2 linked regions of the Homo sapiens genome follow. The protein of the gene in region 1 interacts with the protein of each later gene in a biochemical or structural test. Each region holds a gene or a part of one and is shown in the gene's direction. Other genes may lie near its edges.

Evidence for each region. Proteins that work in one complex are often made in the same cells at the same time.
Region 2: of the proteins of TGFB1 (region 1) and MMP2, one has a biochemical effect on the other in vitro, tested with the Homo sapiens proteins (one study listed by BioGRID).

What each region holds. Positions count from the first base shown.
Region 1 is NC_000019.10:41,329,772-41,333,609, reverse strand, and holds the end of TGFB1 (transforming growth factor beta-1 proprotein preproprotein), read left to right. Parts: intron 1-1,328; coding exon 1,329-1,482; intron 1,483-2,399; coding exon 2,400-2,558; 3' UTR 2,559-3,287; downstream 3,288-3,838. UniProt on the Homo sapiens protein: Transforming growth factor beta-1 proprotein: Precursor of the Latency-associated peptide (LAP) and Transforming growth factor beta-1 (TGF-beta-1) chains, which constitute the regulatory and active subunit of TGF-beta-1, respectively.
Region 2 is NC_000016.10:55,477,698-55,481,297, forward strand, and holds the start of MMP2 (72 kDa type IV collagenase isoform 1 preproprotein), read left to right. Parts: upstream 1-1,500; 5' UTR 1,501-1,782; coding exon 1,783-1,935; intron 1,936-2,300; exon of another isoform or gene 2,301-2,358; intron 2,359-2,835; exon of another isoform or gene 2,836-2,900; intron 2,901-3,600.

The sequences.
Region 1 (3,838 bases):
AGGCGTGCGGATCGTTTGAGCCCAAGTTCGACACCAGCCTCAGCAACATAGTGAGACCGTGTCTCTAAAAAGAATAACAAATTAAAAAGAATAAATAGGCCAGATGCAGTGGCTCAGGTCTGTAATACCAGCACTTTGGGAGGCTGAGGTGGGCGGATCACAAGGTCAGGAGTTCGAGACCAGCCTGGCCAACATGGTGAAACCCTGTCTCTACTAAAAAGACAAAAAAATTAGCCGGGCATGGTGGCACACGCCTGTAATCCCAGCTACTCGGAAGGCTGAGGCAGGAGAATCGCTTGAACCTGGGAGGCGGAGGTTGCAGTGAGCCGAGATCATGCCACTGCACTCCAGCCTGGCAGACAGAGTGAGACTCTGTCTCAAAAAAAAAAAAAAAAAAAAATAGAAAAAAAAAGAAGAAATGAAGTGAAGGAACAAGCTGGAGTGGGTATCTGTGGGACTAGCAAGGCAGGCAGAGGGAACAGCAGATGCAGGAGCCCCGAAATAAGACTGTCTGAGGAACAGACAGGACGCCAGTGTGGCTGGAGTGGAGTAGGCGTGAGAGAGGGAGTTGAGATCAGCCAGATTTGATAGCACCTTGTGGCTCACGGTGAGGACTTGGGCATTTGCCGTGAGATGGAGCCAGGTTCAGAGCAGAGGAGTGACAAGACAATTTATAGCATGCCCATGGAGGGCAGAGATTTCTGTCTCTTTTTTAAAAAAATTGAAAAAAAATTTTGTAGAGACAGGGTCTTGCACTTTGTTGTCCAGGCTGGCATGCAGTGGTGTTATCATAGTTCACTGCAACCTCGAACTCCTCGACTCCAGCGATCCTCCCACTTCATCCTCCCAAAGTGCTGGGATTAAAGGTGTGAGCCACCATGCCTAGCCTATTTCTATCTGTTTCATTTGTCCTCAGTCCACAGTAGATCCCAGCCCAGCACACAGTAGTAGTTCAATAAACATTTGTTGCACAAATAGAGCAGATCAGTTTACATGGAGCTGTGTTATTTTGTATGTTCCAGGGTGTGGCATGCCATGATTTATTTAGCCCCCCCGTGGATGGTCATCTGGCTTCTTACAGGCTTGTCTTAAGCATTGCGTGAAATTAATTATTACATTGCTCTTAGCACTGGAGGAAGTGCTTAATCTGTGTTAGTGATTATCATGACTATTTGTGTTGTTATTAACACAGTGGGTGCAAGGGAGACCCAGATGGAGATAGGGCTGGGGGGGCAACCTAGGGTGACACACGCACCTGGGGAGGAGGGGCATGTGGCTTCTATGGTGGTAGCCCCTCCCTGCCCCTGACGCGTCTCTCCTGCCTGCAGCTCCACGGAGAAGAACTGCTGCGTGCGGCAGCTGTACATTGACTTCCGCAAGGACCTCGGCTGGAAGTGGATCCACGAGCCCAAGGGCTACCATGCCAACTTCTGCCTCGGGCCCTGCCCCTACATTTGGAGCCTGGACACGCAGTACAGCAAGGTACGTCTGGCCCACCGGGCTACGAGATGCGCTTGGGGGGAGCCAGGACGGAGGAAGAGGAGAGAGAAAGAGAAGTAAAGTCAGAGAGGTGAGTTGGCAGGATGGGGAGAAAGAGAGGGATGGGGTGGGGAGGGGAATGAATAAAGAGATGGGGAGAGAGGCAGGAAGCTAGAGAGGGGCTCTGAGCAGGGGCCAGAGGGAGATGAGCTATGAAGACCCACAGAGTGAAGTAACAGAGGGATGGGGGTGAAGGGGAGAAGAGAGACAGGGAGATGGAAGGAAAAACGCAGAAATGGAGAGACAAAATGAGAGAGACAGATACAGACACAGAGTTAGGCCAAGGAGAGACAAAGACAGATACACAACAAGGCAAGAGGCGAAGATGAGGAGGGACAGAGACTGAGAAAGAAAATCAGGCGGGCGCGGCGGCTCACGATGGTAATACCAACACTTTGGGACGCTGAAGCAGGAGGATCGCTTGAGCCCAGGAGTTCGAGAGTAGCCCAGGCAGCAGACTGAGATCCCATCTCTACCAAAAAAAAAAAAAAAAAAAAAAAAAAAGCTAGGAGTGGTGGCGCTTGCCTGTGGTTGGAGCTACTCCGGAGGCTGAGGCGGGAGGATGGCTTGCGCTCAGGAGGTTGAGGCTGCAGCGAGCCATGATCGTGCCACTATACTCCAGCCTGGGTGGCAGAGCGAGACCCAGTCTCAAAACAAAAAGAAAATCAGACAGGTGGGGAGAGACAGAATAAGATAGGATGTTAGAAGATAAGAGAGACCGAATTGGAGATGGGAAGAGGGGATGCGGGGAGAGACGAAGTGAGAGAGGCTGGCGCGGTAGCGGGTGGGGGATGGGGCAGTGGAGGGCCGTTTTCCTCCCTCCACGAGCCCTGAGCCCTGACCCCGCCCGCCGCCCGCAGGTCCTGGCCCTGTACAACCAGCATAACCCGGGCGCCTCGGCGGCGCCGTGCTGCGTGCCGCAGGCGCTGGAGCCGCTGCCCATCGTGTACTACGTGGGCCGCAAGCCCAAGGTGGAGCAGCTGTCCAACATGATCGTGCGCTCCTGCAAGTGCAGCTGAGGTCCCGCCCCGCCCCGCCCCGCCCCGGCAGGCCCGGCCCCACCCCGCCCCGCCCCCGCTGCCTTGCCCATGGGGGCTGTATTTAAGGACACCCGTGCCCCAAGCCCACCTGGGGCCCCATTAAAGATGGAGAGAGGACTGCGGATCTCTGTGTCATTGGGCGCCTGCCTGGGGTCTCCATCCCTGACGTTCCCCCACTCCCACTCCCTCTCTCTCCCTCTCTGCCTCCTCCTGCCTGTCTGCACTATTCCTTTGCCCGGCATCAAGGCACAGGGGACCAGTGGGGAACACTACTGTAGTTAGATCTATTTATTGAGCACCTTGGGCACTGTTGAAGTGCCTTACATTAATGAACTCATTCAGTCACCATAGCAACACTCTGAGATGCAGGGACTCTGATAACACCCATTTTAAAGGTGAGGAAACAAGCCCAGAGAGGTTAAGGGAGGAGTTCCTGCCCACCAGGAACCTGCTTTAGTGGGGGATAGTGAAGAAGACAATAAAAGATAGTAGTTCAGGCCAGGCGGGGTGGCTCACGCCTGTAATCCTAGCACTTTTGGGAGGCAGAGATGGGAGGATTACTTGAATCCAGGCATTTGAGACCAGCCTGGGTAACATAGTGAGACCCTATCTCTACAAAACACTTTTAAAAAATGTACACCTGTGGTCCCAGCTACTCTGGAGGCTAAGGTGGGAGGATCACTTGATCCTGGGAGGTCAAGGCTGCAGTGAGCCCTGACTGTGCCACTGTATGCCAGCCTGGGTGACAAAGCAAGACTCCATCTTTTTTTTATGTTTTTTTTTTGAGACGGATTTTCACTCTTGTTGCCCAGGCTGGAGTGCAATGTCGAGATCTTGGCTCACCACAACCTCTGCCTCCCGGGTTTAAGCGATTCTCCTGCCTCAGCCTCCCAAGTAGCTGGGTAGCTGGGATTACAGGCATGCGCCACCATGCTCGGCTAATTTTGTATTTTTTTTTAGTAGAGACGAAGTTTCACCATGTTGTTCAGGCTGGTCTCGAACTTCTGACCTGAGGTGATCCGCCCGCCTCGGCCTCCCAAAATGCTGAGATTACAAGCATGAGCCAGCGCACCCAGCCAAGACTGCATCTTTAAAAAAAAAAAAAAAAAAAGACTGGGCACGGTGGCTCACACCTGCAATCCCAGCACTTTGGGAGGCTGAGGCAGGGGGATCACTTGAGGTCAGGAGTTTGAGACCAGCCTGGACCACATGGTGAAACCCTGTCTCTACTAAAATACAAAAAAAGGCTGGGCGCAGTG
Region 2 (3,600 bases), on another chromosome or scaffold:
CCCTGCTGACCCCCAGTCCTATCTGCCCCCTTCCTAGGCTGGTCCTTACTGACCCCTCCAGCTCCATCCCCTCACCCTGTGCCCCACCTTTTTCAGATAGAAAAAACTTTCTTCTCCAGTGCCTCTTGCTGTTTTTCATCTCTGGGCCATTGTCAATGTTCCCTAAAACATTCCCCATATTCCCCACCCAGCACTCCACCTCTTTAGCTCTTCAGGTCTCAGCTCAGAAGTCACTTCTTCCAGGAAGCCTTCCTTGATTGTCTTTACTAGTTTAGGGGCTGAAGTCAGGCGTTCCCAACAGCCTGCTGGAGTTCCCCATCACAGCTTATCTCTCAACTGTCTTTCCTGAGAGAGGGAGAAGACATTCCTCAGAGACGGTTGTCACAGGGAGAACTTCAAAATTGGGATTCGACCTGAGAGGCCACATGGATTCTTGGCTTGGCGCAGGAAAGGATTCAAGAGTGAGTGGGGAATTCGTGGAACTGAGGGCTCCTCCCCTTTTTAGACCATATAGGGTAAACCTCCCCACATTGCCATGGCATTTATAAACTGCCATGGCACTGGTGGGTGCTTCCTTTAACATGCTAATGCATTATAATTAGCGTAAAATGAGCAGTGAGGATGACCAGAGGTCGCTTTCTTTGCCATCTTGGTTTTGGCTGGCTTCTTCACTGCATACTGTTTTATCAGTGGGGTCTTTGTGACCTCTATCTTATTAAACCAGTCTTGCCCAATTTCTATCTCATCCTGTGACCGAGAATGCGGACCCTCCTGGGAGTGCAGCCCAGCAGGTCTCAGCCTCATTTTACCCAGCCCCCTGTTCAAGATGGAGTCGCTCTGGTTCCAACGTCTCTAACGCGGGGCCCCTGACTGCTCTATTTCCCAAGGTGTATCTAGCATCTCGCACTATACGAGGCCAAGTTAAGGCTTACACATTTGCAGAAGGAAAGAGGTAAGGAAGCAACCTGGGACCTTCCACTGTCTCTGTTTCCATCTCTCTCTTTCCATCTCTGTTCATCCCAGAATCTCTCTGTCCCTATCCCTAAATATCGAAAATTTCTGTCTCTGACCATCTATCATTGTGGCTGATCATCTGTTTCTGACCATTCCTTCCCGTTCCTGACCCCAGGGAGTGCAGGGTGTCCTAGCCAAGCCGGCGTCCCTCCTAGTAGTACCGCTGCTCTCTAACCTCAGGACGTCAAGGGCCTAGAGCGACAGATGTTTCCCAGCAGGGGGTTCTGAGGCTGTGCGCCCAGATCGCGAGAGAGGCAAGTGGGGTGACGAGGTCGTGCACTGAGGGTGGACGTAGAGGCCAGGAGTAGCAGGCGGCCGGGGAAAAGAGGTGGAGAAAGGAAAAAAGAGGAGAAAAGTGGAGGAGGGCGAGTAGGGGGGTGGGGCAGAGAGGGGCGGGCCCGAGTGCGCCCCCCGCCCCCAGCCCCGCTCTGCCAGCTCCCTCCCAGCCCAGCCGGCTACATCTGGCGGCTGCCCTCCCTTGTTTCCGCTGCATCCAGACTTCCTCAGGCGGTGGCTGGAGGCTGCGCATCTGGGGCTTTAAACATACAAAGGGATTGCCAGGACCTGCGGCGGCGGCGGCGGCGGCGGGGGCTGGGGCGCGGGGGCCGGACCATGAGCCGCTGAGCCGGGCAAACCCCAGGCCACCGAGCCAGCGGACCCTCGGAGCGCAGCCCTGCGCCGCGGAGCAGGCTCCAACCAGGCGGCGAGGCGGCCACACGCACCGAGCCAGCGACCCCCGGGCGACGCGCGGGGCCAGGGAGCGCTACGATGGAGGCGCTAATGGCCCGGGGCGCGCTCACGGGTCCCCTGAGGGCGCTCTGTCTCCTGGGCTGCCTGCTGAGCCACGCCGCCGCCGCGCCGTCGCCCATCATCAAGTTCCCCGGCGATGTCGCCCCCAAAACGGACAAAGAGTTGGCAGTGGTGAGTTGCTGCGCTGGCCTCAAGGAACCACGTTTAGACAAACTTCGGAGGCAAAGGATGGGGGTGTCTCTCCCCCTGCCCTCGGCGGTGGGCACACAGCGTGGGGGAGGGGCTTCGGTAAACAGCTTGGGGGGTCTTTGGCAAGCTATTGGAGTGATCTCTTGCAAACGGTGGGGGATCTTTTGTAAGCAAAGAAAACCTTTGATAAACAATTTGGCAACCTTCAGCATACAGCAGTGGGGCGAAAAACAAGCCAGAGAGTGGGAGAGGGGTGACCTGGCAAACTACTGGAAAGGGACTCTTATGTAAATAGCGGGGACATCCTCTAGTATCTGGGACATTTGGCGGGGGGGGGGGGCGGTCTTTGTAAACAACTTTTGGACACATCTGGGCAGTTGCTAAGGGCTCTTGCCAAGCGTCTAGGTAAGCCTTTGGCAAACAGCTACAGGGGTCGTTTTTGCTAATGTAGGACTTTGGGAACGGTGCTCTGGCACACAATTTGGGTAAACTTATGCGCGCATAAGGATGGGAGGGAGCTTGGTCAAAGCGGGGCTTGGCAAATTTCTAGGAACCTTCGGCACAGATCCGGAGAGGGACCTTTAAACAAACAGCTCGAGGGGGCCATTTGGGAAGTGATTGGGGCAGGAGGGAAGCAGAGAGCGCATCTTTTTTCTCCTGGCTTAATGGACAAATTGGTCAAGGGCTGGGCCTCGGAAAGTTTCCTCGAACTTCTCCAAAGGGTCGGAGAAAAGAAGGAGAGAGCTGGCCCGGCAGGAGGGAGGAGGAGTGGGGCAGGCGCTGGAGGGCCCGGCGCGTGGGGCGGGGGCGGACTGCGCTCCGCTCGGGTCGGAGAGCGGCCAGAGAGCCCTCCTTCCTGGCTGGGCTCCCAAACCGCGGTTCAGATGTTGTCTTGTGAGCGTGCGCGCGCCTGGCTGGAGGGGCACTGAGCCTGGCCGCAGTGTTGCGTAAGTAGGGCCTGAGGAGAGAGGCAGGCCAGGGACCCATCAAGATGTCCTTTCCAGTCCAGGGGATATCTGCTCCCTTGTTGCTTCAGCCACCCTGCCCTCCAGCCTCCCCCTCAACCTGTCCGGGAGAAGACGCCCATGCCCTCTGGTCACCCTAGGAACTCCTTCAGGAGGTGACAACTACCCTCTCCCAACTCTCACCCTTCCAAACAGCTAGGTCTCAGCCCCCTCTGGATAGATGGGTTGGGAAACCTCCATACATTTTTAGAGGGCTACTTTTTTCAAGGATCTGGAGCTGGCTGGCATAATGATGTGGCTGTTGGGTGGGGGTGAGAGTGGAGCTTTGGGACAATGACAAAGCTACTTGGTTTCCTACACCTTTTCCAGCCAATGGGTCACAGGATGAACCCCTAAATTGGGGTTCAGCCTGGGGGCCACATGGGTTCTTGGCTTGCACAGGAAGGAATTCAAGAGCGAGCCAACAGAGTAAAGTGAAAACAAATTTATTAAGAAGGTAAAGGAATAAAAGGGTGATTATTCCATAGACAGAGCAGGGAATGGGCTGCTGGACTGAGTATACATATGGTTATTTCTTGATTATATGCTAAACAAGGGGTGGATTATTTAAGAGTTTTCCAGAAAAAGGGTGGGGAGTTCCTGGAACCGAGGGTTTCTCTCCCTTTTAGACCATATAGGGTAA